3 linked regions of the Homo sapiens genome follow. The protein of the gene in region 3 interacts with the protein of the main gene of each other region in a biochemical or structural test. Each region holds a gene or a part of one and is shown on either strand. Other genes may lie near its edges. The genes, in order: TNFSF13B, TNFSF13 and TNFRSF13B.

Region 1 (7,575 bases), on a different chromosome or scaffold from region 3:
CTGAAATGTCATGAATTTCATATATATATATCATATATATAAATCAATGGGCAAATATAAAGTAACTTTAAGAATAATGTCATGCAATCAATGTAAAAAGTATAATTGATTTAGTGTTTCTGGAAGAGTGGGTTTCTAGCTTTGTGTTCTCAGTTTCTTTATTATTTCTACTCAAGTAACTAAAATGATAAATTTTTGCTTTTTAGTCACTCAAGACTGCTTGCAACTGATTGCAGACAGTGAAACACCAACTATACAAAAAGGTAATAAAATATAGCAAAGACTTGGAACCAAGCCAAATGTCCATCAATGATAGACTGGATTAAGAAAATGTGGCACATATACGCTATGGAATACTATGCAGCCATAAAAAATGATGAGTTCATGTCCTTTGTAGGGACATGGATGAAGCTGGAAACCATCATTCTCAGCAAGCTATCGCATGTTCTCACTCATAGGTGGGAACTGAACAATGAGAACACATGGATACAGGAAGGGGAACATCACACACCGGGGCCTGTTGTGGGGTGGGGGGAGGGGGGAGGGATAGCATTAGGAGATATACCTACTGTTAAATGACGAGTTAATGGGTGCAGCACACCAACATGGCACATGTATACATATGAAACTAACCTGCATGTTGTGCACATGTACCCTAAAACTTAAAGTATAATAAAAACAAATAAAATATCCCCAGTACTTTTTCCACTTAGAATTCAGTCCACTCCAAATATTTGTAAGTTTCAAGTCTAAAGACTGTATTTGAATTGCATGTAAAATCAATCAGCCATCTCAGAACTTCTTATAATCAGGTAAAAAATAATAAACCTACATTTATTCAAAATGACTTGGGAATAAATAATAATTAAGACCAAAGTAATAATCTAATAAGGAGAATGACCTTAGAGGCACGAATACTTAGAAATGTTAAATAATTAAACTACAATAAAATAAAAACCAATAATAAATCAAATTCCATTTTTATTATTTAGACAGCATTTTATCTTTAAGAATGACTCAAGACCATCTTCACAAATATGAATTCTCCTGTTATATTCAATTGTAAAAATCATAGAAAGAGGAAAATAAAACTGAACAGATTATTAAAAATCTGTATTTTTAAAATAAATTTCCAACATCAAATTATTGCTTGATAATTTACCGTTTTCTCACAGAGGTAGAATGTTTTACATTTTTCAGTTATTTGAAGCCTTTTTTAGTTTTAATTTTAGACAAGTTAAGTGTTTTCCATAATAATGGCCTGAAACCAGGTTTACAAAGAAACAACTTTTAATGTCATTTCCCAATATGTGTCACCTAGAATGTTAATCCAGAGAAATGGTCCTTGAAATAAGAGTTTCAGTGTCGTATAAGTTTGGAAACACAGCATCTTACATATTTTTCTTTGAGTCACAAGGCACATTAGCAAGTTATTGAATCTAAGTAGTCCTACTTTAAAAAATGTTTGTTTAACTTTGTTTCATCCAGTTTTTCACAAATTTTTGTGACTATGCTGCTTTATCATGTATCGACCTCTCTCTGAAAGCAAATGGGAATTGATGCTCTATAATAGCATTTGTTTATATAAGATAACTAGTGAACAAAAATGTACTAAAAAAGAACCATTCGTTCACTCACACATTCATTGATTCATTTAGTTTACATTTATTAATTAAGAATATACAATATTTTAATTACTGTATGTTTACTGGGTGTATCAGTGACTAAAATATGCACAAATGCTCCTTGGCTTACAATGGAGTTATGTCCTGATAAACCCATCCTAAGCTGAAAATAACGGGCCTTGAAAAAAGCAGTTAGGACATCTAACTTACCAAATATCATAGCTTAGTCTAGCCTACCATAAATGTGCTCAGAACACTTACATTAGTCTACAATTGGGCAAAATCATCTAACATGAAGCCCATTTTATAGTAAAGTATTGAGTAGCTCATGTTGTGTTTTGAATACTGGAATGAAGTATGATTTCTCCTGAATGTATGTGGCTTTCACACCTTTGTAAAGTTGAAGATTCTAAGCCAAACCATCGCAAGTCCATATGCATGGTTTTCTACTTTGAAAGAGCTTACCTCTTGATGAGGAGAAAACAAACGAAAGGCCCAACAACCCACAAATGAACAAGTAAAATGTAGATGAGACGAAATGCTGTGGAGGGCAGCAAAGCAGGCGGGGGCAGGAGAAAGTTTTGTGTTGTGAACGAACTACGAGTTCAGGAGTATCTGGAGGTTAGGCTAGGCGATGAGGAATGGGCAAAACAACACTAGCACAGATGATGAATGTGAGTTGGCACTGGTAATGATTCCCTGGCATGCTCTTTTCATCTGTGTTTTTTTCTGCGTGACTTTAATTGTCCTAAATGCAACACAAGTACTAAACTACTTGTAAATCTATTATTTATTGTTCAACATTTTCCTAAATCATGTTTGCAACTTTTAATAAGCAGCACACTGTTTCCTAAGAAGTAAAAGAAAGCCAGAAGATCTTAAGGGCCAAAGTTACAGTTTTTAAAAATTCTTTTGAAAAGGTTTACTTTACACATCTCTCCCCCACCCCCCAAAATGCTATAAATTGCACCAAATTATGCAGCTGCTATACTCCAATGTGCGTGTGAACTGGAGAGTATGCTGTGATCTTCCTGGAGTGGTGACTGCTTGCCACAGATCCAGGGGTGCTGAACTGGGGTGATTACCTGGGATGCTTGCTTGCAGTGCTCCAACCTTTAGGATGGACAGGTTGCCCTTGTGATGTCAGCAAACCCTTGACCAGTATATAAATGTGAGTGTGCATGGGCATTTAGCAGGCAGATTGCATTTAGCAGGTAGGTTGCATTTTGTTAAAAAAGGCTGTACTCACTAAAGCATTTTACTTGCACAGGTCCATAAGAAGACTTCTGGGAAAAGATAATAATATATTATTAATATTATTAGCATATTATATGTAATTATATATTATATAATATATAATGTATTATAATAATTATATATAATAATATATTATTATCTTCTGGGGAAAGAATTTATATATATAAATATTATTAGCATATTGTATATATTATCTTATTGTATTATACATAACATCAGGTCTTGAGATGAAATCATGTTATGTATTCCAGAGACATGGAGATTCAAAGGAGCGGGGCTACGTTCATCTGATATTTTGAGTTCCTATGCTTGCTCTGCCCCATACTTTTGTCCAGACAGTGAGGGCAGAGGTAAACTTCACAAAAGAGAAAAAGACAAGAGGGGTTTATCAGAGTGTAGTCTCATGTCTTTTCTGTTCATTTGTTTTTTTGAATTTTAATCTAGATTTTGAATAGGTAATGCATTCACACGTTGCAAAAAATAAAAAAGCATGAAGAGTGTGGATTGCTCCTTTTCCCATCTGTTCCTGCCCACACTCACCTCACTTTCAGTTTCCTACATAGACTTCAGACTCCCTCTATGTTAACACAAACAAATGCAAATGTAGCTCTGCTTCCCTCCTTTCTTATAGTAAACACTTAAAAACCATATTTTCAATACATATGATTTGAAAATGAGATTATAACCTGCATTCTTTACTTAACAATGTATATTGCAGACATTTTGATGCCTGTGTACAGAGATCCTCATATGAAAAAAAAAGCAGCATAGTATTCCATTGTATGAATTGAATGTATTTAACCAGTCTCCTACCAATAGACTTCTTGGTGTCCATCTTTTGCAATGCAGGTGCTTCGAAAAATAATTGTGTGCATCCGTAACTTCTCATATGTCAGCCTATGTGTGGGACAGATTTTGAATTTTGACAGTTATTGCTAAGTGGTCCTATAGGGGTTGTAAAGTGTTATGCTATCACTTGCAGCAAAAGAGCATCAGGTGAAAAATAGCATCTCTTAATTTGCTTTCTTTCAAGCCATTCTTTTGTATGTTTTAAGAACCATTTGTATTTCTGTCTTTACATTCTTCCAATTTTTCATGTCTATTTTTATTTTTTTCTGTGAGCCATCTGTTCATATTTTTTTCCATTTTTTCGTTGGACTTGGTCATTTTTAAACTGATTTCTGTGAGCACCTTATATCTCAAGCAGATTAATTCTTTATATTACTAATTGCAAGCATTTCCTCCCATACTGTCATTTGTCTTAATTTTGCATACTTTTTTTTTCTGTCAAATTTGTCAATTTTTTTAAAGGATTCTGGATTTGGGTTGTGATTAGAAAGACCTTTTACACTTAAACGTATTAAGGAAAGATCTCGTGTTCCTTCTGAAACCTTTATAGTTATTTTCTACCTTTAAATACTTTATCTATTTGCAATTTATCCTGGTATAAGATGTAAGGTATGAAACCAACTTAATTTTCCCCTGTGAGGGCATCACAGTCTTTTTTTAATCGCCCATCTTTTCCAGACTGCTTGAAGACATTAACTTTAACTTTTATTAAATTCCATGTTTAGTCTATGTTTTTTTCACTTTTTAAATACTTTTCTGTTATACCATATTGACTTAATGTCTATTTATGCACCCCAATAAAATGGCATTTTGGTTACTAGGGCTTTGTATTATTTTCTGGTAAATTTAATTCACTCATTTTTTCTTTTTACTTCTAGAATTTTTCTTTTTTTTCTATTAAATATAGGAACTGTAGAATCAGCTTACTTAGTTAAAAAGAAAAAGAAAAATACGTGCTATTTTTGTTGAATCTCATATTTATAAATTAAGAAAAATACCCTCATGATAACAGATGTACAGATCAAATCCAAGAACATGATATATATTTATATTTTTTTAGTCTCCTTTTTTTTCTTTTAGTATGTATTGAAATTTTCTTCAAGAAGTTCTTGCATATTTCTTATTAATATCATTACAAAGTGTTTTACCTTTTCAAATGCTATGATAAATAGAAACATTTTCTTTCATTATATTTTCCAGCTGGTTGTTCTTTTTGTGTATAAAAGCCTTGAATTCCATGATATATCTTTTCAATATTAAAGTTGAAATGTTTTCTTTTATTTTTGGATTGCATTTCCCTAGCATGACTTTGCCCAAAATTTTACTTTTAACTTCTCTGAAATAATTTTTCTGTGTTTCTCATGTATGCAAAACAGAGTTGCTCTTTGTTTTTTGATATCATCTTAAAATAATTTTCATTTATTGGGTGATATAAATCAATTTACATTTACTTATTTCAGAAATGTATTTGGCTTTTATTCATCATAATGTGCTATACTGTGTATTGTTTTTCATGTTAACAAAAGAGTTTCTATTTTATAGTTTTAAAGAGGTTGCTTACTATGTAGGCTATTTGCTTTGCTTTTTCTGTTAGCGTAGACTTCTAAATGCTAAATACTAGGGGTAGCTACCTTTTCAGTTATATCTTTTTATTGAAATTAAATTCATATAACATAAAATTAAATGCACAATTCATTGTAATGTAGTATTCACAATATTTTACAACCACCAACTCTCTCTAGCTCCAAAATATTTTCTTCAGCCCCAGAGAAAATCCTGTATCCATTAAGCAATCAGTTACCATTTCTCTGTCTCCCCATGCCCCTGTACCAGCAATCTGCTTTATGTCTCTGTGGATTCACCTATTTTAGATGGTTTATATAAAGGCAGTCACACAATACGTGACTTTTAGTGCCTGGCTTCTTTCACTTAGCATGATGTTTTGAGGTTCACCCACATTCTAGCATGTATTCATACTTCATGCCTCTGTATGAATGTATATCATTCTATTATAAGTAAGCCATAATTTCATTAAGGGTATTTGGTTTGTTTCCACCTTTTGGCTATTGTGAGTAGTGATCCTGTGAACATTTGCATAAAGTACTTCCTGAGTGCCTCTTTTCAATTATTTGGAGTATACATCGATGAATCGATGAGTAGAATTGCTGAGAAAATGTCAACCTGTTCTCTACAGTGCTGCAACATTTTGCCTTCCCCCCAGCAATGTACTAGTGTTCTAATTTTTCCACATCCTCACTGACACATCTTATTTTCAATGTTTTTATTAGTATTGCCTTCCTACTGGGTGTGAAGCCATATCTCTGTTATTTATTTGCATTTTCCTTATGACTGATGATGTTGAGCATCTTTTCATGTCCTTTTTGGTGTCTTCTTTGGAAAAATGTCTATTCAAGTACCTTGTCCATGTGTTTTAATTGGGTTGTTTGTCTTTTTGTTGTTGAGTTGTAAAACTTCCTTATATATTATGGATACAAGACCCTTATCAAATATCTGATTTGCAAGTATTTTCTCCTCTTTTGTGGATTATCTTTTTACTTTCTTGAGAATGTCATTTGAGGCACAAGAGTGTTGTACATCAGATAAATGAAGTAAAATTTATCTTTTTTTTGTTTCTTGTGATTTTAGTGTTATCATTGAAGAACTCATTGCCAAATTCAACATCATGATTCACCCATATGTTTTCTTCTAAGAGTCTTGTAGTTTTATGTCTTATATTTAGGTAATTAATCTATTTTAATTCATTTTTGTATATGGTGTGAAGCAGAGGTCCAAAATCATCTTTTAGCATGAGGATATCTAGTTGTCCCAACATCATTTGTTGAAGAAGATGATTTCTTCCACATTGAACGGTCTTGGCACACTTGTTAAAAATCAGTTGTACGTAGATGTATGGGTTTATTTCTGTACTCTCAAATTTATTTTGTTTCTTTATACACCTCGCCTTATGCTGGACCACTATACTATTTGGATTACTGTTATGTTATAGTAAATTTTGAAATTTAGGATAGTGAATCCTTCAATCTTGTTATTTATTTTTAAGATTGTTTTGGCTATTTGATACTCTTTTGCAATAACAAATGAATTGTAAGGCTGGCTTTTTCATTTTGGAGAACAAAAGGTCACTGAAATTTGTATATGGATTAGACTGAATCTGTACATAATACTGAGTATTACTGCCATCTTAAACTAAATCTATCAATCCATGAACACAAGATATCTTCTCTTTTATTTATATGTCCTATCATTTCTTATAGCAATCTTTTGTAGTGTTCAGTGTTAAAGTGTTTTATGTCCTTGGGTAAATTTACTTCTAGGTGTTATGTTCTTTTGAATGCTGTTTAGTCAGTTCAGTTTGCTATAACATATTACACTAGACTGAGTGGATTAAACAATAAAAATGTATTTCTCACACTTCTGGAGGCTGGAAAATTCAAGATTAAGGTGCCAACAGATTTGGTTTGTGAATGGTGGTCTTTTCATTGTGTTTTCACATGGCTGAGAACAGAGACAAAAGCAAGTTCTTGTGTCTTTTCTTATAAGGACATTAACCCATCCTGAAGGCTGTGCTACCACAGCCTAGTTATTTCCCAAAGGCACCACCCCCTAATACCATCACATTGGAAGTTAGAATTTCAACATATCAATTTTGGGTGACAGAAATATTCAATCCATAACGGATGCTACTGTAAATGGGATTCTTTTTTAAAATTTCCTTTTTAGATTATTCATTCCTGGTATATTGAAACACAACAGATTTTTGAGTGTTGATCTTGTACCCTGAAACTTAACTGAATTCATTGATTAGTTTTAGTAGATTTTTTTG
Region 2 (8,451 bases), 9.4 Mb from region 3:
AGTTTAGTTCTGTGAACAATACTATTTTCATCTGATCTAACATGTACTGAGGGCTTTCTTGAGATAGGCACTGTGTCTGGCACTTGTGTTTGGTCTTATCTAATCCTCACAACAGCCCTAAAAGGAAGATACTCTAATTACCTCCATTTTACAGATGGAGGTTACACAACTTGTCTGAGGCCATGAGATACTAAGTGGTGGAGCCAAGATTTGAACCCAGCTAGAATGTGCCTGTGTACTGGACATGGTCTGCATGAAAGGCGAGGTGGCTGGTGCAGGGGTGAGGGGTCCATGCAGGGGCCACATCCAAAAAGGGGAGAGGGAAGTTTCCAGAAAGAAGAGAGGACACATCTCCCACCATTACCAGAGGGTCAAAGGAGAACAAGAGACCAGGTGGGTTTGTAGATTTGCTGGGGGGAGATGAGGGAACCTTTGCTCGATGACTTCTAGGTCCTCTGGACAACTAGGGAGATGGAGACAGGAGATTTGAGGAGAAATGGTACAAAATCTCAACTTGCTGATTATGAAAGCAAGCTTCGTGGGGGAATGTAAGATTGCCAGGCAGGACGGAATGTCCAGGTGAGGTTTGTGGCTGGAGACAAGTGATATACCAGGCAAGCCCTCCGTGCTCCTGGGCACACCATGCCCTTAGGCTACAAGCAGCCTTTGCTTAGGCTGGCTTCGTAGCTAGGAATGCCCTCTCTTCTCTGCCCTCCCTACTCTTCATGCCCAGATCAGCCTTCCTCCCCTCTGTATAGACCACTTATTTTGGCAATTATCCAGACATTCATTCATTCATTGACTCAACAGGCATTGAAGACCTACTGTTTGCTAGGGGCCAGGCTAGGTGCCCACAGCAACTAATATCCAGACTCTTTTTTTTTTTTTTTTTTTTTTTTGAGATGGAGTCTCACTCTGTCGCCCAGGCTGGAGTGTAGTGGCGCGATCTCGGCTTACTGCAAGCTCCGCCTCCTGGGTTCATGCCATTCTCCTGCCTCAGCCTCCCAAGTAGCTGGGACTACAGGCGCCCGCCACCACGCCTGGCTAATTTTTTTTTATTTTTTAGTAGAGACGGGGTTTCACCGTGTTAGCCAGGATGGTCTCGATCTCCTGACCTCGTGATCCACCCAACTCGGCCTCCCAAAGTGCTGGGATTACAGGCGTGAGCCACCGCGCCCAGCCGGTCAGACCCATTTTTTTTTTTGAGATGGAGTTTTGCTCTTGTTGCCCCAGCTGGAGTGCAGTGGCGCCATCTCGGCTCACTGCAGCCTTCTCGGGTTCAAGTGATTCTCCTGCCTCAGTCTCCCGAGTAGCTGGGACTACAGGCGCCTGCCACCACGCCTGGCTAATTTTTTTTTTATGTTTTAGTAGAGACGGGGTTTCACCGTGTTAGCCAGGAGCGTCTCGATCTCCTGACCTCGTGATCCACCCACCTTGGCCTCCCAAGGTGCTGGGATTACAGGCGTGAGCCACTGTGCCCAGCCTCAGACCAACTCTTAAGGAGTCACTGTCTAGGAGAGGAAACAAGCATATAAATTTGTAATTACAGGAACATACAAAAAAAATTAGCCAGGTTTGGTGGCACATGCCTGTAATCCCAGCTACTCAGGAGGCTGAAGCATGAGAATCACTTGAACCCGGGAGGCGGAGGCTGCAGTGAGCCGAGATTGTGCCACTGCACTCCAGCCTGGGTGACAAGAGTGAGACTCCATCTCAAAAAAAAATTTGTAATTACAGTGGAATATGACAAGAACAATAATAAAAGTGGCCAAGATACCTGGCAACACAGGGGAAGACAGACATGGCTGTGGAGTCAGGGATTCTCTCCCTGCATCGCAAGGTGCCGCTGGGCCTTGAAGCAGGAGCGTAAGACAAGACAGGCAAGGGGTCAAGAATGGTGGGTGCAAGCAGAAGCAGCCCCTGGGGCAAAAGCCCCGGGTTTGCCCAGAGCATGATGAGGCTGGGGGACTCTAAGTTCAGCGTGGCAGAAGCAGAAAGTGCTAGAGGAGCGAGATGGGGATGAGGCTGGAGACAGAAGCCAGGCCACACGGTGGCATGTGGGAACTATTCTGAGGTGAGCCATCGGAAGGAGGAAGGCGAGGCGAGGCGGGCTTACGTCTGCATCTTAGAGACTCATTCTGTGGCTTTGTGTAGGGAATAAACTGGAGGAAGCCAGAATGGAAACAGGGAATGCTGTGAAAACCAGACAGAGGCACCAGATGGGGGAGAGAGGGGAGAGAGCTATTTAGGAGGCAGGATAGATAGGAACTGGTGATCGATTAATGATGTAGGTAAAGGAGAGGGAGGCTTGAATATCCCCCTGGTGGCAAAACCAGAAGCCAAATGTGGAAAACAGACAGTAAAGCAAGAGTGGGATGAGGGGGGTCAGCTCAGTGTTGGTTGAGATGAGTTTGAGGGGCTATTGCTGTTCAGATGGTGCAGTTGGCAGGGTAAGGAAGGGAAGGAAACTTCAGGGCTGGAGACTCTGCAGAGCACAGGTTGTGGGAACCCATTGGTGGAAATAAAAATGCCCAGTGAGCGTTTTTTTTGTTTTTTTTTTTTTTTGGAGACAGAGTCTAGCTCTGTTGCCCAGGCTGGAGTGCAGTGGCATGATCTTGGTTCACTGCAACCTCCCCATCCCAGGTTCAAGTAATTCTCCTGCCTCAGCCTCCCATGTAGCTAGGATTACAGGTGCCTGCCACCATGCCCTGCTAGTTTTTGTATTTTTAGTAGAGACGGGGTTTCACCTTGTTGGCCAGGCTGGTCTCGAACTCCCGACCTCAGGTGATCCGCCCACCTTGGCCTCTCAAAATGCCGGGATGACAGGCGTGAGCCACTGCACCTGGCTGAGCATGATGTTTTCAAGGCACATCTGTGCCATAGTGTGTATCAGTACTTCACTCTTTTTATGGCCAAATAATATTCCATTATATGGATAGACATTTTGTTGATGGACAATTGGGTTTCATTTTATTATTTTTAGTTGTACTAATTCAGATAATGTATGTTTACATCCTCCATATAAAAGAAGCAAATAATATAGATATCCATGAAGTAAAACATTAAATCCCCTCACGCTTCTCCTTCAGTTCTACTCTTCTCCCCAGAAGTGACTGCAGGTGACAATCTGCCCTGAATGTCTCTGGCCATATACATTAGATTTTTTCACATAACTTCCTAGTCAACTATGGGCATCATAGGGGATGGGTCCTCCCTTGCCCGGGGTGATCTATGTGTCTTCTGGGTAAAGTGGGCGCCGAATGTTCATATGCTCAATGGATCCCTGGGGAGTGTGGGGGAGTCCTGTAGAGAGACGTTTCCTTATCTCTGAGCATCCGTGTTCAGGTGTGGACGGGACAGTGAGTGGCTGGGAGGAAGCCAGAATCAACAGCTCCAGCCCTCTGCGCTACAACCGCCAGATCGGGGAGTTTATAGTCACCCGGGCTGGGCTCTACTACCTGTACTGTCAGGTAAGCCCCATCTGGCTGCATGGGTAACGCAGTAAGAGAGTGGCGAAGGGTTTGCCAGGAGAGTGGGGGACAAGCTACAGGGCTGGGAGGGTGAGTTGGGGTTTGGGTGGGATGGGATGCCTGCGTCGCTGAGGAAATTGGAAATTGAGGCGAGGGCAGGCAGAGGCCTGGACTCGGCCTGTTGTCCCCACCCCAGGTGCACTTTGATGAGGGGAAGGCTGTCTACCTGAAGCTGGACTTGCTGGTGGATGGTGTGCTGGCCCTGCGCTGCCTGGAGGAATTCTCAGCCACTGCGGCGAGTTCCCTCGGGCCCCAGCTCCGCCTCTGCCAGGTGTCTGGGCTGTTGGCCCTGCGGCCAGGGTCCTCCCTGCGGATCCGCACCCTCCCCTGGGCCCATCTCAAGGCTGCCCCCTTCCTCACCTACTTCGGACTCTTCCAGGTTCACTGAGGGGCCCTGGTCTCCCCGCAGTCGTCCCAGGCTGCCGGCTCCCCTCGACAGCTCTCTGGGCACCCGGTCCCCTCTGCCCCACCCTCAGCCGCTCTTTGCTCCAGACCTGCCCCTCCCTCTAGAGGCTGCCTGGGCCTGTTCACGTGTTTTCCATCCCACATAAATACAGTATTCCCACTCTTATCTTACAACTCCCCCACCGCCCACTCTCCACCTCACTAGCTCCCCAATCCCTGACCCTTTGAGGCCCCCAGTGATCTCGACTCCCCCCTGGCCACAGACCCCCAGGGCATTGTGTTCACTGTACTCTGTGGGCAAGGATGGGTCCAGAAGACCCCACTTCAGGCACTAAGAGGGGCTGGACCTGGCGGCAGGAAGCCAAAGAGACTGGGCCTAGGCCAGGAGTTCCCAAATGTGAGGGGCGAGAAACAAGACAAGCTCCTCCCTTGAGAATTCCCTGTGGATTTTTAAAACAGATATTATTTTTATTATTATTGTGACAAAATGTTGATAAATGGATATTAAATAGAATAAGTCATAGTCTCTCTCTTTATTGGGGCTCAGGGGACACTCTCAGGGTAGCTGGGGGCCACGTGAAGGGGGGCGTTGCGGAGCGGCACAGCTGGAACTCCGGGATGATGTTCAGGCTTGGGGGCGGGGACCTCCATGCCTCCAGCCCCCAGGTGGGAGCAGAGGTAGGAAGGCACACTGCCCAGGAAAAAAATCAATCCTCCGCCCAAGGTACAGCAGAAGCGGCCTCCTTGGCCTAGGAGGCAGACTTCCTCCTGCGGGGAAATCCCTTCCTGGCTGGGAGGAGCAGGGGCCCTTCCTCTTGGTGGCCTCGGACATTCAGCAGGTGCTGGCACAGGCCCTGGCTGGGAGGTGGGGCGGGCAGGAGCCAGCCTGGAGGAGGGGCTGAGAGTCAGCAGGCACACGGGAACCCGGAACCCTGTGTGCTGGGGAGGAATCCCGCAGTGGCCGGGGGGCTTGAGGCCGCTGCTTTGTCTCTTCGTCCAGAGCCTTATGTAAGAGCTTTTCTCGGGAAACAGGAAGTCCTGCTTGCCAATTTCAGCACAGGGAGTAGTGCAGGCCTTATTCCAACACACCCGGCCCAGCCTTAACCCCAGAACTCAGCCAGTTTCTTGCTTCCGTGCCCCTGGTTCTCCTCCCCATCGAGCCCACCCCTCCTTTCCCACCTTCAGTCACCCCTAGTGAACTGCCCCAGCGATCTCTGCTGTGCTTGACCCCGAGGGTCTTCCACCCTCGCCCTGACCCTGGACACTGCCCAGCTTGGCCCCCCATCCTGCTCCTGGCACAATGCCCTCTAGCCAGCCAACCTTCCCTCCCCCAACCCTGGGGCCGCCCCAGGGTTCCTGCGCACTGCCTGTTCCTCCTGGGTGTCACTGGCAGCCCTGTCCTTCCTAGAGGGACTGGAACCTAATTCTCCTGAGGCTGAGGGAGGGTGGAGGGTCTCAAGGCAACGCTGGCCCCACGACGGAGTGCCAGGAGCACTAACAGTACCCTTAGCTTGCTTTCCTCCTCCCTCCTTTTTATTTTCAAGTTCCTTTTTATTTCTCCTTGCGTAACAACCTTCTTCCCTTCTGCACCACTGCCCGTACCCTTACCCGCCCCGCCACCTCCTTGCTACCCCACTCTTGAAACCACAGCTGTTGGCAGGGTCCCCAGCTCATGCCAGCCTCATCTCCTTTCTTGCTAGCCCCCAAAGGGCCTCCAGGCAACATGGGGGGCCCAGTCAGAGAGCCGGCACTCTCAGTTGCCCTCTGGTTGAGTTGGGGGGCAGCTCTGGGGGCCGTGGCTTGTGCCATGGCTCTGCTGACCCAACAAACAGAGCTGCAGAGCCTCAGGAGAGAGGTGAGCCGGCTGCAGGGGACAGGAGGCCCCTCCCAGAATGGGGAAGGGTATCCCTGGCAGAGTCTCCCGGAGCAGGTGAGTGAGGGGAGGAGGGTGTCTGGGAGAGGATGGTTAGCATGGGGGGTCTCTGGGCCTCCTGGTCTGCAAAGTTTCAAGGGGGTGCAAGAGAGGGTCTCCGGTTTGGAAGTCAGGGGCGCGGCCATTCCAGGAAAGGAAACTGTTAAAGGTTAATGCTTCTCATACCTAACAAATCCTGGAGGGCAGCCAGCACCAACACTCAGGGTGCTGGGAAAAGGTGCGTGAGAGATCTGAGGCATCTCGGGGGCAGGGGAGGGCTGGGAAGGCAGGCTGGCTGGGACCCTCGCATCTTAACCTAACCTTGACCCTCTTTCCATGAGCAGAGTTCCGATGCCCTGGAAGCCTGGGAGAATGGGGAGAGATCCCGGAAAAGGAGAGCAGTGCTCACCCAAAAACAGAAGAGTGAGGCTTCCAGGGTGCAGCAGGGGTGGGAGGTGATCAAGCAGCGTGGGGATTGTAAGCCCGAGTCAGGGTGAGGGTGGAGGCTGCCAACAGCACAACGGGGGAAAGTGGATGCGGCTGAGATTCCCTCCTTCTCTCCTCAGAGCAGCACTCTGTCCTGCACCTGGTTCCCATTAACGCCACCTCCAAGGGTGAGCACTATTTTAAATAATGGCTTTGGGGAGGGGCAATAACCAGGAACTCGGGCTGGCACTTGGGCTCAAGGGGTCCTTATAGGTGAAAGGGAAAGAACCAAAAAGCACCTGAGAGTGCCAAGAAGTCCTGACCGACACACTCTCACCTCCAGATGACTCCGATGTGACAGAGGTGATGTGGCAACCAGCTCTTAGGCGTGGGAGAGGCCTACAGGCCCAAGGATATGGTGTCCGAATCCAGGATGCTGGAGTTTATCTGCTGTATAGCCAGGTAACCCCAGCCACACTCTGAGCTTCACAGAGGGCCTCTTTGGCCCCCTACTGAGGGTTCCTGACCCCTCTATTCATACCAAACCCAGCAGACCCTTCTTTCTTCCCTCGTTAGCGCTCCTGAGGCCTCCCAGAACTGAGCCAGGCCATCCTGTTTTCTTCAACATCTCCCTTCCCTGCCAGGTCCTGTTTCAAGACGTGACTTTCACCATGGGTCAGGTGGTGTCTCGAGAAGGCCAAGGAAGGCAGGAGACTCTATTCCGATGTATAAGAAGTATGCCCTCCCACCCGGACCGGGCCTACAACAGCTGCTATAGCGCAGGTGAGAGCCGTGTGGGCAGCCGAAAGCAGGACGTCTCTGACCGGGGGTAGCAGTGCAGGGAGCTACCGCTAGGAGGGAGGTTGGAAACCTAAACAGAGGCGGGTCTGAGGAGTGAAGTGCAGAATGCCGGGTCCTTACAGGAGGCAGAGGAACGGTGGAGCTGGAGAAGGCAGGGGGAAACAGGGCATCTGGATGGCTGTGCTTCACTGCGAATCTACTTTCTCTCTTTTCTCAGGTGTCTTCCATTTACACCAAGGGGATATTCTGAGTGTCATAATTCCCCGGGCAAGGGCGAAACTTAACCTCTCTCCACATGGAACCTTCCTGGGGTTTGTGAAACTGTGATTGTGTTATAAAAAGTGGCTCCCAGCTTGGAAGACCAGGGTGGGTACATACTGGAGACAGCCAAGAGCTGAGTATATAAAGGAGAGGGAATGTGCAGGAACAGAGGCGTCTTCCTGGGTTTGGCTCCCCGTTCCTCACTTTTCCCTTTTCATTCCCACCCCCTAGACTTTGATTTTACGGATATCTTGCTTCTGTTCCCCATGGAGCTCCGAATTCTTGCGTGTGTGTAGATGAGGGGCGGGGGACGGGCGCCAGGCATTGTCCAGACCTGGTCGGGGCCCACTGGAAGCATCCAGAACAGCACCACCATCTAGCGGCCGCTCGAGGGAAGCACCCGCCGGTTGGCCGAAGTCCACGAAGCCGCCCTCTGCTAGGGAAAACCCCTGGTTCTCCATGCCACACCTCTCTCCAGGTGCCCTCTGCCTCTTCACCCCACAAGAAGCCTTATCCTACGTCCTTCTCTCCATCTATCGGACCCCAGTTTCCATCACTATCTCCAGAGATGTAGCTATTATGCGCCCGTCTACAGGGGGTGCCCGACGATGACGGTGCCTTCGCAGTCAAATTACTCTTCGGGTCCCAAGGTTTGGCTTTCACGCGCTCCATTGCCCCGGCGTGGCAGGCCATTCCAAGCCCTTCCGGGCTGGAACTGGTGTCGGAGGAGCCTCGGGTGTATCGTACGCCCTGGTGTTGGTGTTGCCTCACTCCTCTGAGCTCTTCTTTCTGATCAAGCCCTGCTTAAAGTTAAATAAAATAGAATGAATGATACCCCGGCTCCATTTCCCCCACTGCCTCGCCTCAGCCCGGTCCTCGTACGGGGATCTCCCGCCCTCCTGGCTCTCCTGTGGCGCGCCCCCCGCCGGATCAAGGTACTGGGGATGCCGCTAGGGTCAGGCCCGCGAGCGCGGAGAAGACAGAGCGCGGCGCAAAAGGGAAAGTGGCGGGGCCGCCACGCGCGGCCGGGCGGCGGATGTGCGCAGGCGCAGCCTCGCGTAGCGCTCTGGGCTGGCCAGTCCCGTGGCGCCGGCGTCCTCGGGTAGACGGGACCGC
Region 3 (7,452 bases):
AGAAAACATAGAAGTAAATCTTCATGATTTGAGGCTAGGCAGTGACACCAAATGTGCGTGTGATAGAAGAGAAGATTGATCAAAATTGGACTTAATCAAATGAAAAACTTTTGTGTTCCAAAGCAAATCATGAAGAAAGTAAAAAGACAATTCACTAACTTGGAGAAAATAGGTTCAAATATTATACCTGAAAAGGAGCTTGTATCCAAAATATATAAAGAATGCTTATAACAGAATAATGAAAAGGCAACCCAATTTTTATATGGGCTAAATATTTCAATAGGCATTTTCCCCAAAAAAACCATATAAATGGCTAAAGAAGCACATGAAAAGATGCTTAACATCATTTGTCACTAGGGAAATGCAAATCCAAACCACAGTGAGATACCACCTCACACCCCTTGGGATGGCTAGAATGAGAAAGACAGTCAATGACAAATGTCGGTGAAGATGTGGAGAAATTGGAACCCTCATGCATGAAGTGAATTATAAAATAGTGCAGCTGCTTTGGAAAGCATTTTGCAGTTCCTTAAAATGTTAAACATAGAATTTATCATATGACCCAGCAATTCCACTTGTAGGTATCTATCTACTTAAGAGAAATGAAGACATGTTCACCCAAAACTTGAATCCAAAAGTTCATAGAAGCTTTCTTAATAATCACAGTGACAAAAAAAGTAGAAACAACCCAAATGTCCATCCACCGATGACTGGAAAAGCCACATGACATATCCATAAAGTGGAATGTTACTTGGCCACAAAACTGAAGCAAGTACTGATACCTGCTACAACATGGACGGCCCTTGAAAACATTATGCCAAGTGGAAGCAGCTAGTCACAATACATCACATATGATTCCATTTATGGAAAATGTCCAAAACAGGCAAATCTATAGAGACAGAGAGTAGATTAGCCTGGGGCTAGGGAGGAATGAAGACTGACAAAGTTTCTTTTTGGGGTCATCAAAATCTTCCAAAATTAGCTTATGGTGATGGTTGCACAACTCTGTAAATATACTAAAAACACAGACTTGTATGCTTTACACAGGTGAATTTCATGGCATGTAAGTTATATGTAAATAAAGCTGCTTATTCTAGGGGAGGTGGGAACTGGGCAGATGGAGGACAAGGAGGAAGAAAAGACTTTCTATTATATATCTTTCAATACTTTCTGGGTTTCAAACCATCTGACTATACTATCTATTCAAAGGCAAATCTAAAATCAAAGGATCAAACAAAATTAAAGGCAGACCCGATTCTCCCCACTTTTGGGTTGGGGAGCAAAGAGGGAGAAAGCCACCACCCGCCGCATATCACCGTGAAGGGTTGGTTGAGTGGAAGGTGGGCAGGACGTTCTATGTGACAAGGGCAGCCTTGGAGATGTTCCAAGACCCATTCATTGCCTGGACCAAAGCCACCAAAAGCCACTGGACCTGACAGAGAGACAGTGCCTGACTGACCAGACAGCAGATGCCAAGCTGACCAGAGGGCCTGTCCCCGCCCCCTCCTCTACCACCATGTGGACCTACATAAAATCCCAGAACCATCATCAAGTGCCAAAGGAGGGCAGGAAAACCCCATGACTGACACCAGCCAGGCAGAATAGAAGCTTGAGAGAGAAGCTTCGTTGATGGAAAGGGAAGAAAGGGAACACCTCTCTGACACTAGCTGTGTGGGCTGGGCTCAGACTCTGGGCCGCCACAAATTTGGATGCAGGATGGAGACTCTCTCCTGCACCCCGAGACCAGAGAGCAGCCAAGGAGGGTGATTCTCAGAGCCCTCTGCTTGTGCCTCCTCACGGGCTTGGCCGGTTAACAGGTGCTGCACCAAGAAAGAGCTCTGTGGTCGGATTAGTTTGAAAAACACTGGGTTAAAGAAAGTCAAGGCAGTTTTTTAACCGCAGGGCTTCTCAGAGCCTTTCCTCATGACTCCCCAAGAGGGGGTCTGGTAGTTTCATCAAAGCACTTTTGTGTGTTTGAGGGATGTCTGGTAGGAAAGACAGTCTTCTTCATTTTACACTGAGGGGAAGCGGCTCAGCCAAGGTCCCAGAGTGGGCCAGTGGACAACCGGCCAGGGCTGATTCGGCAGCACCAGACAGCTTCTGCCACTGCCAGGTCACAGTTCTAGCTGGGTCCTGACTCGTGGCCCCAGAGCACTGGGCAATTTCATCCTGTGTTAAGGCAGCCTCTGGTCACTGCCTTGTCCAAGTCTCTCAGAAACTTTACATATTTGAGCCCCTGGCTGTGTAGATTCTGGGGACTTGGTGGCTGGACACAAAAAAGGACTGAAGAACAAATTTGCTCCCTGCCTGAGGTGTGGGACAGAGCAGCAGGCAGAGGCTGTGAATCTAGGCTGTGCCCCGGGTCCATCTGGCCATGGGTTCTGTCTGCACTAAAGGACCTGGGGCCCTTTCATAAAACCTTAGAAACCCACCCTGATGAAAATGCTATACGGGCCGGGTGCCGTGGCTCATGCCTGTAATCCCAATACTTTGGGAGGCTGAGGCAGGTGGATCACCTGAGGTCAGGAGTTTGAGATCAGCCTGGCCAACGTGGCGAAAGCCTATCTCTACTAAAAATACAAAAAATTAGCCGGGCGTGGTGGTGGGCACCTATAATCTCAGCCACTCGGGAGGCTGAGGCAGGAGAATGGCTTGAACCCGGGAGGCGGAGGTTGCAGAAAGCCGAGATCATGCCATTGCACTCCAACCTGGGTGACAGAGCAAGACTCTGTCTCAAAAAACAAAAACAAAAACAAAACAACAAAACAAAAAAAAAGAAAGCTATAGGATAAATATAAATATAAATATATAACAGAAAAAATGGGTGGAAACTGTTATAGATTAAAACATAGCCAAAAGTCTAATGTGGGACAGGCTGATTTGAACAAGTCAACTGAGAAAGACATTGGTGAGACAGTTGGTACAGTTTGAACCCTGGCGGGCTATGTGATGATGTTCAGGAATTGTTGTTTCAGCAGGGGTGAAGGTATGATGCTTAGTTTTTTGTTTTGTTTTTAGGGTTTGTGTTCTTAAGGAATAAATCCTGTGGTCTCCACAACTCAAACAATCTGGTATTTGAGATTAGCATTAAAATGGTCCAGCGGGCATGTAAGGGGGAAAATGGGGGCTGTGCAGGGGCCATGGTGACAAAGGGAATTCCTGCCGGTGTGGCCAACCCTGCAACCTCAGTGGCTTCTGTCACGGAAGGCAAGCCCCACATCCCAGAGGCATCCAGACTCGGGGCTCTCCATGTGCAGGAGCTTGGGGAGGCTGGGACTGCCCCAGTGTGTGGATCTGCTGTGGGCTTTGCACCTGCTGGACCTTGCAACCCCCACGGCACTCAGGCCCAACCCTCCTCACACCTCCCACCTGCCCTCCTGCCCTCCTGCCCGGCTACTCACAGCGCTCCTCCTGGTCCACACGGCTCCGGCCACCTCGCCTGCTCCGGCCCAGGCCACTCATTACTCAGGATGCTTATTACTAGTCTTAGATTTGATTAGTGCTTGGGCTGCACTTCCTGGGTTTTCCCCTCAACCTGTTGGATGTAAATCAGCCACACCCACTCCCGCCCCCATGCCTGTGCATTGGGTCTCAGGAGCCCAGGTGGGTGGCTGCGGCCCAGGCTCCTGGCGTCCCATGGGGTACACACAGAGCAGTGGAAGGCCTGCCGGGCCTTGCGATGAGGTATTGACTATGGGATGGCCCAGGCTCTTCTAGATCTGGCCTTGGCCATCCCTTGGTCCTCATCTCCTGCCCGCCGGCACACACCCCAAGCCAGGCCAGCTCTCCACCCTCCCAGCATCACTCAGGCCTTTCCCTCTTCCTGGGTATACTTATTCTATTCATTGCCTGGTCGGCTCCTCCTGCTCTTCCTTCAAGGCTCCATTGAGGTGTCACCTCCTCCAGGAAGCCATCCCTGACTGTCCCAGCCTGTCAGGTGGTACTCATTCTCTGTATCTCCTTGACCCTCTCCAACACCTAGCAGAGCACTGGAGAGGCTGAACCCCAGGACCGGACAGCCTGCGTTTGAATCTTGACTCTGCTGCATACTAGCAGAAGGCCTTGGTGGCAATTTATGGAACTCTTCTGTGCCTCCATGTTCTCTGTGTAAAACAAGGATGAGGTCGGGCATGGTGGCTCACGCCTGTAATCCTAGCACTTTGGGAGGCCGAGGCAGGTGGATTGTCTGAGCTCAGGAGTTCGAGACCATCCTGGGCAACACGGTGAAACCCCATCTCTACTAAAAAAAAATACAAAAAATTAGCCGGGTGTGGTGGCGCGTGCCTGTAGTCCCATCTATTTGGGAGGCTGTGGCAGGAGAATGAACCTGGGAGTCAGAGGTTGTAGTGAGCCGAGATCGTGCCATTGCACTCCAGCCTGGGCAACAGAGATGCCATCTCAAAAAAAAAAAAAAAAAAAAGGATGAGAACATTGCCCGCCTCACAGGCGGTTATGAGCATGAAATGAGGGAGGGAGCACAGTTACATTCTTAGAGCAGGTTCTTGGCACACAGTAAGTCCTCAATAAAGGCCGTGGAGGAGGAACATTACAGCCCGTATTGCACTGCATGGCGACTGCACTCCTGTGTCTTCCCCATCGTCTGAAACCTCCCAGGGGATGGGAGGCCCAGCAACAGCCAAAGGCGGAGTGAGAGGAACGTAAAAGCCAAAGAAAGCCCATGGGCCCTTAGGAAGAAACTGAAGGACGAGGAGGACATGGAGAGGTGGAGAGGAAGGAGGGAGGCTGCAGGAAGCAGCTGGAGCAGGGTGATGGTGCACAGAGCAGGAGAGGAGATGCAGACGGTCAGCAAACACAGGAAAATGTCCAGTCTCCCAAAAATCAGAAAAACAACTGAACAATGAAAAACTAACTTTCAGCCATCAGGTTGCAAAGTTTTAAAGTTGGTAACATCAAGGGCAGGGGGGTGATCTACAGAAGCATGAACTCAGGGCCCACTGGAGGGAGGGAGCTGGCAGCAGCGTTCTGGAGAGTAACCAGCCAGGGTCAGTTAAATGCACAACACACACCTAACCCACCCCCCAGAAATTCTCCTCCTCCGTGAGCCTCCTCATGACAGCGAGAAACGGGAAACAATGTAAATGTCCATGCAGCAGAGGATGCCTGAATAAGCAGGGTGCACAGGCCAGAGCCAGGAATCTATTGCACAGTTAAAAGAATGAGAAATCTCGAAGCTTTCAGGACAGACGCTGAGTAAATAAAAGTAGCTTATAGCATGAGCCTTACAGCATGATGCCTTTTAGTAAAACAAAACCAAAAGCAAACAACATGCACACACACACACACACAGTACAGCGCTGTGTTGTCTGTGATCACGCACACATGACTGTGAAGCATAAGAAGTCTGCAAAGACATGCATGACGAAACTGGCTCTCGCCGGGTGGGGCAAGAGGGAACCAGGACTGGGGGTGACCGTCAAAGGGGACTTTAGCCCTATTTGTAGGGCTAAACATTTTACATTTAGGGCTTTTACATTTGTAGGGGTTTTACATTTAATTACTTGTTTACATTTAATTACTTGTGTCAATGAACAGTGACAAAACCATAGCTGGGCTCTGGCAGTGGATTTCTAAGAGAGAGGTAAGAAAGAGATCCCATTGCCAGGAACTTTCTGCCTGTTGAAATGGGCAAGCCCAAAGTCACTACAGGATGCCCTCACTGAGTCCCCCCTCACCTCCTGTTTGCATACCCCCAGGGTCAGGGCTCTCACCACCTCACGGAGCAGCTGGCTCCCTGGGGGGTAGCTCTGATGGTTAGAAAGCTCAGCTCTAGCCTGGGCAACATAGCGACCCTGTCTCTATAATTTTTTTTTTTTTGAGACCGAGTCTCACTCTGTTGCCCAGGCTGGAGTGTGGTGGCGTGATCTCAGCTCACTACAACCTCCACCTCCTGGGTTCAAGCGATTCTCGTGCCTCAGCCTCCTGAGTAGCTGGGACTAGAGGAGTGAGCCACCACTCCCGGCTAATTTTTGTATTTTTATTGGAGACAGGGTTTCACCATGTTGTCCAGGCTGGTCTCGAACTCCTGACCTCAAGTGATCTACCCGTCTTGGCCTCCCAAAGTGCTGGGATTACAGGCGTTAGCCACTGCACCCAGCCTAATTTTTTTTTTAATTAGCTGGGTGTGGTGGTGTGCACCCGTAGTCCTAGCAACTTGGGAGGCTGGAGGATTGCAACACTGGGCTGGAGCTCAGGAGTTCAAGGCTACAGTGAGCTATGATCACACCACTGCACTCCAGCCTGGGCTACAGAATGAGAACCTGTCGCAAAAAAAGGAGGAGGAGGAAGAAGAAGGAGAAGGAGAAAGAGGAGAAGGAAGGAGAAGAAGGAAAGACAGCAAGTTCAGCTTTGTCCAGTGAGCAGACTGTGCTTCCAGACTGTGCTTCCATGGGACTGAATGCTGCTCTCTGCAGCCACACACATTGTCCTGGAGTTTTAAAGCCAATACCTGTTATGCCTGAAATGAAAAACAAACAAAATCCAGCCTGATTTGGGGAGTGGCTGAGAATTGAATGACAGAGTTCCCTAATGTCTTACTGCCAATCACAGCTTGTTAATGCTTTTGCTCAAATGCAGTTTACAGAGAATGGATTTAATTTGCTTTCTATTTTCTTTAATTAGATGGTGTAATTTACAGACAGTGAAATGCACCCTTTTAAAATGGGAAGTTCAGTAAGTGTTCTCATACATGCACACCCAGGCAACCACAACTCAGATCACAACTCAGAGCATGCACAGCCCCCAGAAGGTCCCTCACTGCCCCTTCCAGCCAGCACACCCCACTCCATCCCCAAGAGAGTCACAATTCTGACTCCTGCCACCACAGATTCATTTTGCTTGTTCCCCAAACTTTGTATAAATGGAAACATACAAATGGGATCGTTTCATGAAACACAAAAATAGATTCCCCCTCTGCACTGGCTCCCCCAGAAGATTGAACAGGTGCTGGAGGTTTCTAAAGCTCATTCTGAGACCAGCCTTTTTTTGAGCTGTCTCCCAAGAGGATGCGGGATTCTAATTTTAAGCTCCACAGCCAAGGTGACAGAAGAGATTTAGAACCCAGAGTAGAGATAACTCATATACCTTAAGGTTTTGGACCTGGTTCATTTATATATGTATAATTAGCGAGTTAAAATGCACACATAGTAAAGAAAAAAATTCAAGCAGTAAAAGAATATGGCGGAAGTAAATTTCTCTCCTGTCTGGTTATCCTAGGCCCATGATGTCCCTACTCAAAGGCGGCAACCCTTAGTGGACCTTGTTCATACAGCCTCCCAGCAAAGCCTAGGCATTTCTGAGCATGTGCGTGTCGCTAGAGGATATATTTCACCTCTCCCTCCCCCTCCATACCTTTTTTTTTTTTTTTTAACACAACTGCTGGCTTATACAGATCAAGGTTGCTGTTTAGCATGCCACCTTTTCCATTTAGTATAG

Evidence for each region.
Region 1: the proteins of TNFRSF13B (region 3) and TNFSF13B form a complex in vitro, tested with the Homo sapiens proteins (3 studies listed by BioGRID and IntAct, with this or other methods).
Region 2: the proteins of TNFRSF13B (region 3) and TNFSF13 form a complex in vitro, tested with the Homo sapiens proteins (2 studies listed by BioGRID and IntAct).

What each region holds. Positions count from the first base shown.
Region 1 is NC_000013.11:108,286,597-108,294,171, forward strand, and holds part of TNFSF13B (tumor necrosis factor ligand superfamily member 13B), read left to right. Parts: intron 1-206; coding exon 207-263; intron 264-7,575. UniProt on the Homo sapiens protein: Cytokine that binds to TNFRSF13B/TACI and TNFRSF17/BCMA. TNFSF13/APRIL binds to the same 2 receptors. Together, they form a 2 ligands -2 receptors pathway involved in the stimulation of B- and T-cell function and the regulation of humoral immunity.
Region 2 is NC_000017.11:7,553,433-7,561,883, forward strand, and holds TNFSF13 (tumor necrosis factor ligand superfamily member 13 isoform alpha precursor), read left to right. Parts: upstream 1-5,317; 5' UTR 5,318-5,607; coding exon 5,608-5,865; intron 5,866-6,191; coding exon 6,192-6,270; intron 6,271-6,413; coding exon 6,414-6,461; intron 6,462-6,616; coding exon 6,617-6,735; intron 6,736-6,917; coding exon 6,918-7,056; intron 7,057-7,291; coding exon 7,292-7,401; 3' UTR 7,402-7,566; coding exon of another isoform or gene 7,567-7,573; 3' UTR 7,574-8,169; downstream 8,170-8,451. Other genes in the region: TNFSF12-TNFSF13 protein, read left to right, coding at 3,346-3,470, 6,192-6,270, 6,414-6,461, 6,617-6,735, 6,918-7,056, 7,292-7,401; TNFSF12 (tumor necrosis factor ligand superfamily member 12 proprotein), read left to right, coding at 3,346-3,470, 3,667-3,918. UniProt on the Homo sapiens protein: Cytokine that binds to TNFRSF13B/TACI and to TNFRSF17/BCMA. Plays a role in the regulation of tumor cell growth. May be involved in monocyte/macrophage-mediated immunological processes.
Region 3 is NC_000017.11:16,968,614-16,976,065, forward strand, and holds the start of TNFRSF13B (tumor necrosis factor receptor superfamily member 13B), read right to left. Parts: upstream 3,506-7,452; 5' UTR 3,463-3,505; coding exon 3,402-3,462; intron 1-3,401. UniProt on the Homo sapiens protein: Receptor for TNFSF13/APRIL and TNFSF13B/TALL1/BAFF/BLYS that binds both ligands with similar high affinity. Mediates calcineurin-dependent activation of NF-AT, as well as activation of NF-kappa-B and AP-1.